Homo sapiens: one gene and its partner. The protein of the gene in region 2 purifies or fractionates together with the protein of the main gene of each other region. This does not show direct contact. Each region holds a gene or a part of one and is shown on either strand. Other genes may lie near its edges.

Evidence for each region.
Region 1: the proteins of MTFMT (region 2) and PPM1K purify together in Homo sapiens (co-immunoprecipitation; one large-scale study listed by IntAct). This does not show direct contact.

What each region holds. Positions count from the first base shown.
Region 1 is NC_000004.12:88,267,357-88,271,388, forward strand, and holds part of PPM1K (protein phosphatase Mn(2+)-dependent 1K), read right to left. Parts: intron 3,932-4,032; coding exon of another isoform or gene 3,739-3,931; intron 1,551-3,738; coding exon 1,385-1,550; intron 979-1,384; coding exon 834-978; intron 1-833. UniProt on the Homo sapiens protein: Serine/threonine-protein phosphatase component of macronutrients metabolism.
Region 2 is NC_000015.10:65,001,012-65,003,325, forward strand, and holds the end of MTFMT (methionyl-tRNA formyltransferase, mitochondrial), read right to left. Parts: intron 2,246-2,314; coding exon 2,051-2,245; 3' UTR 501-2,050; downstream 1-500. UniProt on the Homo sapiens protein: Methionyl-tRNA formyltransferase that formylates methionyl-tRNA in mitochondria and is crucial for translation initiation.

The DNA of each region.
Region 1 (4,032 bases), on a different chromosome or scaffold from region 2:
ATGCTGATTGTGTGCAGGTGATGCTGGATGACTGGGTGCAGGTGATGCTGCATGATTGAGTGCAGGTGATGCTGGCTGATTGGGTGCAGGTGAGGAAGAACAGCAGGACCATTTCACCAGGAGAATTCCATAGCTGGGGTGAAACAAAAACCTAACACTTCAAACTGAGGGAAGCCAAAATATTTCTCCCCGAAATATTGAGGATTGCTAAAGTCAAGTCACTGAAAAGGCAGGGGTACACTTCCTCAGCCTCTACTTGCCTGGTGGCAGGACATCAGTCCTTCTTTACTGGAGACAGCACTTGTTTATTGGCCCAGAGAAGGAACCAGCAGGCACCAGAGAAATCTGGGAACAGGTTTTACTATCTCTCCACATTTTCCTGACTTTTAAAAGACTGAAACTGTTCTCTTCTTTATCTTGTCACTATGCAGGATCTATGGCTATTTAAATACAATTTAAGCAAAGCCCCTAAGCCACTGCCTTGGAAGAGAAATACTTTTAACTGAGGCCTTTCCCGTACAATGGGTTCAGCACGTGCAAATGTCTGCTTGTTTGTTTGTTGTTGTTGTAGTTAATCTGACTTTTATTTTCAAGAAAGTGTCTCAACTAAGAACCTAAAAAGGGGGAAAAAGAGAATTGTTTTGTCCTCTACAATAAATTAGGCCAGAATAGTAGCATCTTATTTTACCTGAAAAGTTTTTTTATCCTTCCATAAATTACTCCCTTTTAAAAATCATTTTGGCTTCAGTTAAGGCTTCCAAGAAAGGTGCAGCAGAGACAATCCTACATTCACTCTCCGCAGGTTTATCAAGTGTTTGCAGGTCCTTTCTTACCTTAATCCTCTTAGTTTCAGGTTCTGCTATGACACCACTGGTCTTAAGGTCCAAATCTCCAATACTTCTTGTCATTGCAAGCCTGCCATTTACGTGAGGCTGCCCCAAACTATTCCAAGCTACAAAACCACCACATTTCTTGATCCTGTTAAAAGTTAAATGACAATGGTGTGATATGTAGAAAACCCTTTGGGAGGCCAAGGAGGGCAGATCACGAGGTCAGGAGATCGAGACCATCCTGGCTAACACGGTGAAACCCCGTCTCTACTAAAAAACAAAAAATTAGCCGAGCGTGTTGGCAGGCGCCTGTAGTCCCAGCTACTCAGGAGGCTGAAGCAGGAGAATGGTGTGAACCCGGGAGGTGGAGCTTGCAGTGAGCCAAGATTGCGCCACTGCACTCCAGCCTGGGCGACAGAGTGAGACTCTGTCTCAAAAAAACAAAAAGAAAACCAAGTCACTGTTAAACTTAACCATGACATCAGTTTAAAAACTATTATGAACTAAAAACATCATCCACATAGAATGATATGATGGATCAGTGGTGGTAGTACCTTTCTTTTTCATCTTTTCTTTCTGGAGTATGGTCAATGGTCAGCTTCATGGGTTTTCCTTTTCTACACAAAATAGCCCGGCTGTCCCCAACACTGGCTACAACCAGTTCAATACCATCTCGCAATAGGGCTACTGTTGCAGTAGTCCCAGAGGTCAGAAGAGTTGCTACAAGTATTATGAAAAAAAGAGTACAAGTTAGTGACAGTCAAATGATTGGATATGGAATTTTTATTACAAAATAAAACACAAGCATGATAAACTAATGCTGGAATATATCATTCTAATTTAACTAGAGCTAAGCAAATAAAATGCAAATGAACTATGTAAGTAACAGCATGCAGAGAAACAAGTATTTAATTCAGTAACAAGTCTCCATGCAAACGGAAAGGTTGCTAACCTTATTTGGCAAACACTGCATCACTATCTACAAATGGCCTCTATTCATATCAAGTAGAGCTGACTTGAACTTATAACAACACCTTCATGGATATCTGGTGTCCAGACTGAAAGTATTAAAATTTAATTAGGTTGGCTATGATGGTGGGATGACTTAGGTCTACTTGAGCCCATGGAGGCAAGCTGACTTTTCTATAGTCTATGGATTTAGAAGGTTTTCTCTTCCATTTTTCACTCCTATGCTGTGAACATATTATCAGTTAGTAGGCTAAGTGAGACATGCCAAGGGTATACCATTTGCATATTCTACCCCTGTATGCTTCTAAAACTGTTTTAATTTTATAAATGTTCACCAAAAAAATCCTAAAATGGTTACAGGCTCACATTCTTTTCTGTTTATCTTTGTCCTCCCTAGACGTGAAACAAAGTTACAACCATCATTACAGGAGCAGAAAATCTGGGGGAGGGGAGGTGGAGAATGAAGTTCATTCTAGCTTCTCATAAACTTGGTGTAGTTAACACTCCTAACTCCAGAAGGTTGTAATACAAAGAGGTAGTCTTCAAACGCAGGGCAGTACTGCCAGCTGCAACTCCTGGGGTCCTGTTTGGGCCCAGAGCATCCCACAAATATGAATTTTCTCTAATAACAAATAAAATTCATTGTTACTGGGCTTGAGGTCACCGTTTCCTCCATCCAACTCAGACTGCATTTCTGCATCTTCCTTTGATTTCCTCTAACAGTGTCTGCCCTAAGTTCTTTACCACTTGTTAAAAATTGTTAATTTGCATTGAGCCTTGTCAAAAGTGAGAATATTGTGAAATTATGGGCTAAAAAATAAAACAAAGTGGAAGAAATCGGAAAAGATAACTTATTTAAAGCAGGTATTGTCTTTAGTAACACTGTTAACTCTTTAAAACATTCCAAAGATGACTTCGATTTTAAAGGTACATTTAGGAAAAACGAAGTGCTACTAATTTGACTGATTAAGACTCAATCTTTCCAAGCTTTTTTTTTCTCCCCAAAAAGATAATTTTGAAAACTTCATCAGTAATGCATTGGAAGGAGATATATACATAAATAGATTTTTCCAATCAGTATATTAAAATGCCTGCTTTAATCAGAAAAGTAAGATGGAAAAGCATGAACAAACTCTACTTAATCTTTTATAGTCATGCTGAACTTTCTTGAGAAATAACATTTATAGTTGCACTATCTTTCCATTTTTCTCTTGATTTTGGAACTGTCGTGCCAATGTAATATTTCTGCAATGTTGAAAGATACATTTGTCCACCATATAACATAAATGTTTTAGCATAAGTATCAGTGATATTTATATTACAAATGTTAACTCGTAACTTTAAATTACCCAAACGACTATGAAACAGTGGAATCTTTACAGTTTGACTAACTATGATATTTCAAACGATTTAAAGAGCCAGATAAGGGAACACGGCATTTATTCAGATGCTACCTGTCCCGGGAATTTAATATTCCTTCCATTTGTTTAAACCATCTACAATAGTTTTCTTAAAAATGGTTTATTATTGGCCACAGTAAAAGAGTTAAAATTTCATAAGTAGAAGTTTAGTTATTTAGGCTTGTAATTTATGGCTCTGTCACCTAGGAATTTTAAGACTTTGAGTTTTTACCAACCCAACTTCACAGTTCCAAAATCCCAGGATTTATAGGAAAGGCTTCAAAACTAACTGTCAATTCTGATTTGCTAAGCATTTAAGAATGTAAATATTAAATCAGCATTCATTTTCATTTAACATTTAACATGGAAGTAAAAATTCTCACTTTTTGCCTAACAACAAAACTAGAAAACTAAGACATCTTTCAATAAGTTCTTAACACTCACTGGACAATTTCTACTGCAAGTCATCTCAACTAATGGGACAAAGAGATGTGGGAACCTTCCCGTAGTCCAGGATAGGAACCGCTGGACTCCTTCACCTGGGACAAAATTAAGCAGATCTCTCTTTCCACTGAAGCCCCGCATATAGTGTCCACGGGCTCCAGGTCTAGAGCTGCTGACCAGGCACAGTTCTCTGCCACAAATAACACGCACAGAGGCAAATACGAATTTCACCCAGGAATTGTGCTCAAACATTACAAACCTGCAACACAGGGGAGAGCAGAGAAAGAGCTGCAAAATAAGGGAAGGGTTTTTTATTTTGGTGAAAATTTAACTAGCAAATTATATAATATTCCAGGAGATGCCAAATCAATTATTCCAAAACTCAGTTT
Region 2 (2,314 bases):
TGGAAGCTAATTCCATTGACTTCCTCTGGGAAGCCTCCATTGACACCCGTGAGGGACACAATGCTTCCCTTATGCCTCTACTATGGCATTTATAACTATTATATTCGCTTACACATTTGTCTCCCTGGTAGGTTGAAGATGTCAAATATTTGATCTCTGAATCTCTGGTAACCAGTTTGAAGTTCTAGTTACACAGTAAGTGCTCAATACATCAGATGACCACACAACCCAGTTTGCCTGGGAGAGTCCTGGTTTATGTCTGTTGCCCTGGAGTAATTATAAGTGCTTCTTTCACTCATAAAAGCATCCTAACTTAGATGACCAAATCACCCTATCCATAAATGTTGAATTAACAAATGACTTAAAGAATAGAGAAAGACTTTCACTGTCAGAATCTAGGCAGGAAAAGCCAATGTGTGGATTCTGCGGCCACTGTGCCTCCTTCTCCTCCTCCTTCTGACTCTCCTGGAGACAGAGAAGATGAGTTTGCACACACCAGATGCTCAATAACCTTTATTGCACAAGTAAGTTGAAAAATGTTAGCACGTTCCTACTTCAAGAAAACCTGGGCCGGGTGCAGTGGTTCATGCTTGTAATCCCAGCACTTTGAGAGGCCAAGGCAGGAGGATTGCTTGGGCCCAGGAGTTCAAGACCAGCCTAAGCAACATAGTGAGACCCCTATCTCTACAAAATTTTTTTTAAAAACTAAGAAAGAAAATTAGCCAGGCGTGGTGGCCCCACTTTGGGAGGCTGAGGCTGGAGGATCACTTAAGCCCAGGAGGTTGAAGATGCAGTAAGCAGTGTTTCACGCCACTGGACTCCAGACTGTGTGAGAGAGCAAGACCCCATCTCTAAAAAAATTAATAAAAAAAAATAAAATCTGGATGTAAAATGTTAATTTATAGTACAGATCAATGTGGCAGAGATTATTAAATATTACCTACGTTTACTACTTGGTTAAATCTAGCTGGTAGTGAAATGTAAAGAGCTGGATTTACTACTTATAGGAAATAAAAAATGCAGATTCAATACTCCTAAAATGTCAGTGGTGACACGATTTTTAAAAAATTAAATAGATGCACTGTTTTTAAAAAAACCTCTTCTCGGCCAGGCACGGTGGCTCACAGCTGTAATCCCAGCACTTTGGGAGGCCAAGGCGGGTGGATCACGAGGTCAGGAGATCAAGACCATCCTGGCTAACACAGTGAAACCCCATCTCTACTAAAAATACAAAAAAAAAAATTAGCCAGGCATGGTGGCGGACGCCTGTAGTCCCAGCTACTTGGGAGGCTGAGGCAGGAGAATGGTGTGAACCCGGGAGGTGGAGCTTGCAGTGAGCTGACATCACGCCACTGCACTCCAGCCTGGGCCACAGAACAAGACTCCGTCTCAAAAAAATAAAAATAAAAACAAAAAACCTCTTCTCAGTATGTATGTAGGTACATACATACACCAGTTAGGGTTGCCCTTGTTCTTAAGGAAAGATAATCTCCTTGAGTTTCGTATCATAAATACAAGTTTTATTTAAACTTTTTTGTAATTCAAGTAAAAAAAAAGCTGTTTTTTAACTACTGTTACATAAAAAGTGGAAAGTGAGGCAATCCATCTTTTCGGCAATAATCTTCTCTTCTTATAATAATGCCATCTTCTTTGAAAGTCCAGATAATTCCAGGCCAGGCACGGTGGCTCACGTCTGTAATCATAGCACTTTGGGAGGCTGAGGTGGGCAGATCACAAGGTCAGGAGTTCGAGACCAGCCTGACCAACATGGTGAAACCCCATCTCTACTAAAAATACAAAAATTAGCTGCGTGTGGTGGCGTGTGCCTGTAATCCCAGCTACTCAGGAGGCTGAGGCAGGAGAATTGCTTGAACCTGGGAGGCGGAGGTTGCAGTGAGCTGAGATAGTGCCACTGGATTCCAGCCTGGGTGACAGAGTGAGACTCTGTCTCAAAAAAAAAAAAAAAAAAAAAAGTCCAGATAATTCCTTGTAAATAAGGTTTTTAATAAATTACAAATATGTAATAGGTTTTTATCCATCTTCTTCCTAACTACTCAATGCATTGTTGCATAGCAACAGTTTTTTTCTGCTTCTTCTTTGTTGGAAGTCTGAGAGTCTGAAATCTGCATTGGCTTGGTTGAGCTTGGGAATTTTTCTGGTACCAGGGGTGCAAATATCCATTGTAGAAGTCAGTAGCTGTTAGTGATTTCTTGAGCATCACTGATCGAACACCAATCCAACCATCCTAAAGGGCAAAATACAAATAGTGAATAGGCAGGGGTGGCAAAACTAAAAAGCCAAGTAAATATTAGTT